3 separate regions of the Homo sapiens genome follow, and regions 1 and 3 are each reported to be linked to region 2. Evidence: microRNA targets listed by miRTarBase, many of them from high-throughput screens and not tested one by one. Region 2 holds a microRNA gene; each other region holds the end of a gene's coding sequence.

What was found. Region 2 holds the annotated microRNA hsa-miR-5692a (CAAAUAAUACCACAGUGGGUGU, at 1,152-1,173, opposite strand). A microRNA usually pairs through its seed, bases 2 to 8, with sites in the 3' UTR of a target mRNA and lowers its output. Matches are read on the target gene's strand: a 7mer-m8 pairs with bases 2 to 8, a 7mer-A1 pairs with bases 2 to 7 and ends in A, and an 8mer does both.
Region 1: miRTarBase lists TRDMT1 as a target of hsa-miR-5692a. Seed matches in the 3' UTR shown: 7mer-m8 at 375-381, 8mer at 1,554-1,561 and 7mer-m8 at 2,095-2,101.
Region 3: miRTarBase lists AVPI1 as a target of hsa-miR-5692a. The part of its 3' UTR that is shown has no 7-base or 8-base seed match.

What each region holds. Positions count from the first base shown.
Region 1 is chr10:17,146,314-17,149,313 of GRCh38, reverse strand. It overlaps TRDMT1 (tRNA aspartic acid methyltransferase 1), which reads left to right. Exons shown (of 11, transcript NM_004412.7): 11 at 174-3,000. The coding sequence ends at 274. Among named protein-coding and RNA genes, the nearest start is that of CUBN, 18 kb to the right of the region's middle.
Region 2 is chr7:97,961,606-97,964,837 of GRCh38, reverse strand. It overlaps MIR5692A1 (microRNA 5692a-1), which reads right to left and starts at 1,180; the gene lies at 1,112-1,180. The region is part of intron 1 of CZ1P-ASNS (CZ1P-ASNS readthrough); the gene reads left to right. It overlaps MIR5692C2 (microRNA 5692c-2), which reads left to right and starts at 357; the gene lies at 357-433.
Region 3 is chr10:97,675,214-97,678,213 of GRCh38, reverse strand. AVPI1 (arginine vasopressin induced 1) reads left to right here. Exons shown (of 3, transcript NM_021732.3): 3 at 189-790. The coding sequence ends at 345. PI4K2A (phosphatidylinositol 4-kinase type 2 alpha) reads right to left here. Exons shown (of 9, transcript NM_018425.4): 9 at 1,780-3,000. Among named protein-coding and RNA genes, the nearest start is that of AVPI1, 11 kb to the left of the region's middle. RefSeq lists enhancers at 1,050-1,119, 1,937-2,436.

The DNA of each region.
Region 1 (3,000 bases), not on the chromosome of region 2:
TAATGTTATAGAATATTTTTGGCTCCAAATTCTCTTTTGTTAATAAAACTTCATGGAGACCTTAGTGATTTACTTATGAAATGACCGCTGTGCCCTTACTAAAGGATACATCCTTTCATCTCTGGAAATTGTGATTACAAATGATTTCTTTAAATTGTTCTTTGTCTTTTTAGGATTTCCTGAGAAGATAACAGTGAAACAGCGTTATCGCCTACTTGGAAATAGTCTCAACGTGCATGTAGTAGCTAAACTAATCAAAATCTTATATGAATAATTTTGAAATAACTCTGAAAGATGGTCATATGATATTCCTTCATTTTCAGAGAGTAATTCTGAAATTCTGTTTTGAACTAATTCTGGTGAAATTTAACTAAATTATTTTAATCTGTCCTTATTAAGAAATTTGGATTTTATTAAAAAAATCCATGTGTTTCATCAAATTTATATTACTGTATTTTATAAAATACGAACTATTGTTATGCTTTATGGAGAGTATATTTTCATATGAAACTGATAAATATATATGTGGAATATTCTTTTTAAAAACAATTTTATAAACAAATCAAGGAGCACTAGAGCTTTAGTGTCTACATGAGTATCTTGTGAAGTGTCATAACAGGCATAACATATTTTTATGTTAATTAAAGAAGTTTTTTATTTCTAATTTTAAAATAATGATTCTAATTCTAGCCCATTGAATGTTTTACTTAATTTCCAATCCTGTAAATATTTCTTTATTTCATCTAAACAAATGCATATGATATGTAAACCAAATTATCATCATTCAGTTTATACAGCAGACTGAAGAATATGTCAGGAAAAATAATCCTAAATGTTTGATTACCTCTCCATGAAGCGGCCACAGAAACTGTTGGTGCACATTATCTACATTTTCCTCAGCCTCTATCTGAAGGACAAAACTCATTTTTCCTTCTTCATTTTGTATGTACTTTCCTTTAGTTGACTATTATCAAAGCTTGTTTTTGTCTTCTCAGCTTCTGAGTTGAATTTGCCTTTGCACGCTGAGGAATGTAGCATGACGTTAAGATTTCAGGGAGGAAGCTGCCCTCTGATCCCATGTCATATGACAGTACTCCCCTCCCCCCAGTTGTTCTTTATTGTAGCAACATACACTCTCAATGAACTTTTATGACTTTTAACTTTCTCTGTCTCTCTTCCTCAGCAGACCTCTTGGAATTAGGGTTTCTAATCAAACTAAGTCTTGCATCATAAATTCTATGGTTTGTGATAAAAGCAAGTGACAAAGAGAAGAGAGATGAAAAGAAACAAGTCCAGAAATCATATTACAAGATTTTAATTCAAATTTTTCTTCTTAAAAATCAGCTATTTAGAGGTGGATAAATTGGAAGTTTGTGCATTGCTTGTGGGAACGTAAAATGGTTCAGCTGCTGTTGGAAAACGCTATGGAGGTTCGTCACAAAATTCAACATAGAATTACCCTATGATTCAGCGATTCCACCTCTGGCTATAGATCCAAAAGAATTGAAAGCAGGGACTTGAACAGATATTTGTACACCAGCGTTTATAACACCATTATTTACAGTAGCCAAAAGGTAGAAGCAGCCCAAGTGTCATCCCATTCACCCATGAATGGATGCAGGAATTGTGTTCCGTGCATGCAGTGGAATAGTACCAGCCTTCCGCAGGAAGGAAATTCTGACATATGCGGTGACATGGATGAACCTTGAGTACATTATGCGAAGTGAAATAAGCCACCCTGTGGGGATGGAGAATGGGTAGTTAGTGCATAATGGATACAAAGTTTCTGATTGGGGTGATGAGAAAGTTCTGGAGGTGGATGGGGAGGATGGTTGCACAACAGTGTGAGTGTACTTAATGCCACTGCAACTGTATATTTAAAAATAGTTAAAATGATAAATTTTACATTATGTATATTTTACTGCAATTGAAAAAATCATACTCTATTACCAATTTTTCAGAACTCATAGATAAATATGAATGTAGGGAAGCTGTAAGCCAGCCCATATACAGAAACTATCACTATCTACATTTTTCATATGTGTTCAGACAGAGCCTATTACAAGTCTCATAAATTTCAGTAAACAATCACAAATTATTTTGGCACACTTTCATGTAGGTTCTGTTCACTGCTGAAATATTCTAAATAAAATGGTTTAGAGTTTTACTGTAACTATGAATAATTATGCTATAATTATAGTATCCCACATTCGGTTGAGCAACATTATACAAAATAAGTGTCGAGTTACTGTGCACCAACTATAAATACTTGAAAGGTCTGTAGAGACATTTGCTTACAAACTGGTAGACAGAATGTAGCTTAGTGGAATTCTTAAATTATGGGAATGTATTCACAGGAAGACGGTGATTCTTGCCCTTAATTCATAATTGAAAATATGCAGTAACAAGCATAAAACTCACATCTTAATGAAGATGTATCTACCAGTGTCATTCAATTAGCAGATGTATATGTATGCATAATTAATTTGGAAAATGTTATTTTATGGAATGTCTGCTATATGCTTTTGGTAATAATGCTGTATATAAAATTTGCACTGGAAATTCTGTTTCCTGATATTTGGACTTGTACATTTATTCAGATGTTGGAAAACATAGCTTCTCATTTTCAGGAGAACTATGTGTAATTCAGTCTTCACCATACCTTACAGTAAACCGATTTTTCGTTCTCCTTTTCCCATCATCCCTGCTCTTTTAAACGGCTTGCCAGATAATTGTAAGGTATTTATTACCCTGCTTCATATTTTTAGTATGTCTTCAGGATCCAAAACTAATTCTAAGAGATGACCAAATCAATTAATGTAAACAAAATGAGTCATAGTTGGAAAATGATTTCGAAGAGGTGGGTAGTCATTGTAGGAGGGGTCAGAGCCTGACAATCCTCAGTGGCAGGCAAGAAAGAGGAATGATGGCATCACCTTCACAGAGGACCCTGGCCATGGTGTTCTGTCTGTGAAATCAGACCTTCACCATGGGCACTGC
Region 2 (3,232 bases):
TACACACCCTGTAATGTTAGGAGAAATAGCCGTCTAGGATATTAGGAATAATGTCACAGGGAACACACCCCCTGTGACATTAGGATAATACGAATGATATGCCAAGATGTACACGCATTGTGACATTCGTACTAATATCCCTCTGGTATACTATGAATAATATCACAGGGTGTACATCCCTGTGACATTAGGAGTAACATCCCCCTTGAATAGGAGGAATAATATCACAGGGGGTACACACCCTGTGACTTTAGGAGTATCAGCGCCCTGGAATATGAGGAATACTGTCCCAGGGTATTAACCACCTGTGACCTGAGGAGTAACATCCTGTTGGAATATTACGACTCATATCACAGTGTGTACACCAACTGTGATATTAGGAGTCCTATTTATTTTTAGGATATTAGGAATAATATCACAGTAGGTGTACACAAATAGTATGTACGCCCACGGTGATATTAAAAGTTATATCTCCCTAGGGTATTCCGAATAACATCACAGTGGGTGTACACCCACTGTGATATTTGAAGTCATATCTCCCTAAGATGATAAAAAAATCAAAGGGTGGACCCTGTCTGTGACATCAAAAGTAACATCTCTGTGGCTATTCCGAATAGCATCACAGGGTGTACACAGCCTGTGACGTTAGGAGTAGCATCCCCATAAGATATTCCGAGTAATATCACAGGGTGTACACCCCATGTGACATTAAGAGCAACATCTTCTTAGGATATTACGAACAACCTCACAGGGTGTACGCCCCCTGTGACTTTAAAAGTAACATCCCCCTAGAATATTAGGAATAATATCATGGGTGTACACCCCGTGTGACATTAGGAGTAACATCTCCCTAGGATATTACAAAGAACATCACTGGGTGTACGCCCTCTGTCTTATTAGGAGTAACATCCTTCTAGGATATGAAGAATATCACAAGGCGTACACACACTGATATTCGGAGAGATATCTCCCTAGGATATAAGGTGTATCACAGAATGTACACGCATGGTGTACACCCACTGCGACATTAAAAGCAATATCTCCCTATGAGAGTATGAGAAATATCAAAGGGAGAACACTCTCTGTGATATTAGATGTAATGTTTACCATGGATATTACAAATAATATCACAGGGTGTACACACATGAGGTACACCCACTGTGGTATTATTTGTACTGTCTTAGATATAATTCTAATATAACACGGAGAGCTATAACTCTGTAGTATCTGAGATATTACAAATAATATCACAGTCTACACATAGTGTACATAGTGTACACCCACTGTGAGATTTACAGTAAAATCTCCCTATAAGACTACAAATATTATCGAAGTGTGTGCACCCCCGTGACCTTAGGAGTAACATCCTTCTGGATATCAGGAATCATATCATGAGGCATACACACCCTGTGACATTTTGTACACTCTTTGTGACATTCAAAGTCACAGCCCCCTAGTATATTACGAATAATATCAAAGGCGGTTGATGCACACGGTGTACACATCCTGTTACATTAGGCGTAATCTTTTTCTGTGATTTATGAATATCACAGAAGGTGTACACACATGCTGTACACTCCAGGTGACATTAGGAGCAACACCCCCCCAAGATATTAGAAATAATATTACCAGGGTTGCATACACATGGTGTACTCTCCCTGTGACATTAGCAGCAACATTCCCCTAGAATATTACGAATACCATCAGAGGGGGTGTACACACATAATGTACGCACCTTGTAAAATTAGGAGTAGCATCTCCCTACGATGTTATGAATAATATCACAGAAGGTGTACGCACATGGCCTATACCCCACGTGATGTTAGGAGTTACATCTTTCTAGTATGTTAGGAATAATACCACAAAGGTGTTCACACATGGTTAACAGCATATGGAATATTAGGATTAACATCCCTCAAGAATATTACAAATAACATCACAGGGGCTGTGCACACATGGTGCACATGCCCTGTGACATTAGGAGTACATTTCCCTGGCACATTGCAAGTAATATCACAGAGTGTACACCTTCTGTGACATTTGGAGTAACATCCCCTAGGATAGTATGAATAATATCACAGGGTGTACATCCCCTGTGACCTGAGGAGTAACATCCTTCTAGGACATTGTGAATAACATCACAAAATGAATGCACAGCCCCTGTGACACGAGGAGTAACATCCACCTAGGATATTCTGAATAATATCACAGAGAGTACACCCCATGTGACAGTAGGAGAAACCTCCCCCGAGGATATAACGAACAAATACAGAGGATGTACACGCGTCGTGTCACTAGCATTAACATCCATTTAGGATATTACGAATATTATCACAGTGTGAACGCCCCCTGTAATATTAGGAGTAACATCCCCCTACAATATTGGGCACCATATCATACGGTGTACACCCCCTGTGACATTAGAGGTAACATTTCATTAGGTTATGATGAATAATATTACAAGGTGTAAGGCCCCTGCGACATTTGGAGTAACATTTCCATAAAATATTACGAATAATATCACTGTTTGTACACCACGGGTGACATTAGGAGTCCCAGCCTCCAAAATTATTATGAATAACTTCACAGGGCGTACACCCTCTGTGACATTAGGAGTAACATCTTTCTAAAATATGACGAATAAAATCAAAAAGTGTACACCCCATGTGACATTAGAAGCAACATTGCCCGAGGATATAAGAAATAATATCAGATTGTGTACGTGCATTGTGACATCAGTAGTAACATCCCTTTAGGGTATGACGAGTATTATCAGAATGTGAATACCATCTGTAACATTAGGAGTAACATCACCCTACAACATCGGGAATAATACCACAGGGTGTACACCACCTGTGATATTAGTGGTAATATTTCTTTAAGATATTATGAATAATATCACGGGGTGTACAGCCCCTGTGAGATTAGGACTAACATATCCAAAAAAGCTTGACAAATCATATCACGGTTTATACACCAAGTGTGACATTAGGAGTAACATCCCCCAAAACTATTATGAATAACTTCACAGATTGTACACGCTCTGTGATATTAGGGGTTCACATCTTCCTAGAATGTGAAGAATAACATCACAGGAGGAACACCCCCGTGATATGAAGGGTAACATCACTCTAGGATATTACGAATAATATAACAAAGTGTACCCAATTTGTATGGTAGGAGTAACATCCCCTGGGATACTACAAATCATAGCACAGAAAGCGCAGCCCCT
Region 3 (3,000 bases), not on the chromosome of region 2:
TCTACTGCAGAGAAATCTGTAAACTTTGTCTAGTCAGACAGTTCTCAGAGGGGGAAAGACCAGAGCAGAGCCCCGCTCTCATTTTGCTCCAAATCATATGTTTTATGGTCCACCATGACGAAATCTCTTGAAGTCCCCATTCCATTCTTCCTATTGATGTTGGCTAATCATACACTTGTTCTCTGCAGAATCCTGGAGCCCCACTCTGCACTGGCCAACCCACAGAGTGCCACAGAGACAGCCTCCAGTGAGCAGTATCTGCACTCTAGGAAGAAAAGTGCCAGGATCCGCCGGAACTGGAGGAAGTCAGGCCCCACAAGCTACCTCCACCAGATCAGACACTGATCCAGGGAAAGAGCCAGGAATGGCAGTGTCTTCCCTCTTGCCAAAAGGCCTGGGGAGGTGAAGGAAGAGAGACTTTAGGCAAGCAGCCCAAAGGGGTAAATGAAAGCAAGAGGCTGCTGCCACTGACCTGCTCCATTCAGAACAAGACTGGATGCTTCTGTTGAGCTCTCCATTATGTGGGACCCATTCCTCACCAAAATGAGGAGAGACAGTGACTGTTCCTGCCACAGTCCTTCCCAGTCTAACACTATTCCTGGGCTGCATGATATTCCCCTGGGAGCAAAGTGACAGGCACTTAGATGCAGCATTTCACCACTCATGCTACTAATCATCTACCTGCTACTACTGTAAACCATGGTTCCAGCAGCCTGTTCCACACCCCCACACCATCAGGATAGCACAGGGAAACTGTAGTTTAAGTGGCAAATAAAAACATTTGCATCAAGAGCTGTGTGAGTCTGTCACAGAAGGGGAGGAAATGAAACAGAGTGGGAGGGGCAAGAGTGTCCCCAGGAAGGAAAAATCAGGGCTGGCCTCCTCTCTCCTTTTCACCTCCCTCTCCTTTTTCACCCCCATGCTGAGCCCCTGGACCACAGCCTCCTTTTCCAGAGTCTGTTGGATCGGGAGTAAAGAGGGGAGTCTCTGCAGCAGTCCTGATCCATAGGATCAGGAGAAGGGGGAAGACTGTCATGGTCAGCCCAGCACAGTAGGCTGAGGCCTTGGGCTGGCTTAATCTGTAGTCAAACTAGTGGTGCCAGATCCTCATTTGGTTTCTTCATCCTTATGGGCTGACCATCCCAAGGTGGACTGATGATTCTGAAGTTGCCTGCGTTATATCCTAGGCTTCCCATGGCCTGGAAACCCTTGAAGGCAGGGTTTTTCCCACAGTTCTGGCTCCACCTCAAGAGAGGCATACTCTGTGCTTATTAGCTTTCTTCTCCCTCTCCACCCACCCTATATGCTTGATTATTCAGGGTTTGAAGTGGGGCAGTGATGTACACAGGGCAGGGCTGCCCTCTGGTGGCCAAGAGGAGGAACCACTACTACCTTGAGTCAGGTAGGTCCTCTTTTTTATTTTATTGTTTATTTATTTATTTATTTATTTTTATTTACTGAGAGACAAAGTCTTACTCCAGGCTGGAATGCAGTGGTGCAATCTCGGCTCAGTGCAACCTCCAACTCCCGGGTTCAAGTGATTCTCCTGCCTCAGCCTCCCAAGTAGCTGGGATTACAGGCGTGTGCCACCACACCCAGCTAATTTTTGTATTTTTAGTAGAGACGAGGTTTCGCCATGTTGGCCAGGCTGGTCTCAAACTCCTGACCTCAAGCAATTCACCCACCTCAGCCTCCCAAAGTGCTGGGATTACTGGTGTGAGTCACTGCACCCAGCCTGTAGGTCCACATTTCTTATCCCAAGCCCTTGGCACTAGATTATTTTGGAATTCAGATTTTTTATTTTTGGCTCTTAGGAAGTAGTCAGCAAATACTGTATAATCCCTAGTAGGGAACCATGTCATAAAATATATTGACATTTCTGCAACAAAGAATCACACTAAAAGGAACACATCATAATTACCCATAGCTTCCTATCAGTGTAAGTTCAGGTCAGGTTTGGTTTCAAATGGGTTATGAAAATACTTTTGGTTTTCAGAGCATTGGGACTTTGGAAATGAGGACCTGGATCATCCTTTATTAGGGAGAAATAGCCCCAGGAGCCACGTCTCAGCAATTCCATGGAAACACAGGTTTCTTTGCCCTCAAAATTCCGTTCCTACCTTCTTTGTCTTCCTTCCCCCAAAGAAACTGGACAAAAAAGGTCAGAACTGTATTTGTTATTCATACATTTGCGTTGATTTAAATACATTACGTACAATTTCTACATTGGATTAGAAGAATGACACAGGGGGCAGCAACACTCTCGCAGCCCAGCCTCCATTCCCTGACACTGGAGGCAGGGCCTATGGCTGGCAGAGGGACGGTGTTCCATGAGTGCCACTCAGAAGCCTCCCCCGGCATTCTGGGCCCCTGGCTCTTCCAGAGTCCACATTCAAGGCAACCTGAGCACAGGCTTGAGGGAGAGTGGAGAAAGGCCAGGAAAGGATGCCCACACTCTTGCCTGCCAGGCCCAGGACCAGCTCTCTCCTACACTGGACCCAATTTCCTTCTGATCACAGAGCTGGTCTGGATCAAGACAATGTGGAGATCTGGTGTGGAGGCTGTGGCCAGGTGAGGCAGCCGGGCTCCCTGTTAGACCCCCAGGCTCTCTTGAGCACCAGATGGGCACTTTACCAACAGGTTTGGGTAAAAATGTCTACAGAGAGCTATGCACACCTGGGTCCCCTTCTGGCTCCTACAGTCAAGGGGCAAGTGTTCTCTCGAACATTGTTCCCAAGGCCAGTGTCCGAGTCAGCTGCATGTGATTGTCGGGGCTGGGATTGGGGCAGGCAGGCGAGCTGTACCTTCGTCCACAGGGCATGCACATCCAGCTCTCAGAAATTCTTCCTGTCAGCCAGGTGGAAGCCCGGGACAAGTGGACTCTTGGTGGCTGGACTGGAAGGGGACCGGCGGGGACCAGCCTGGACCAGCTGACCAGAGGGCTGCACATCTCTGCTCTGCAGCCGGGCAAGCAGAGGACATGCAGCCATAGTCCTCACT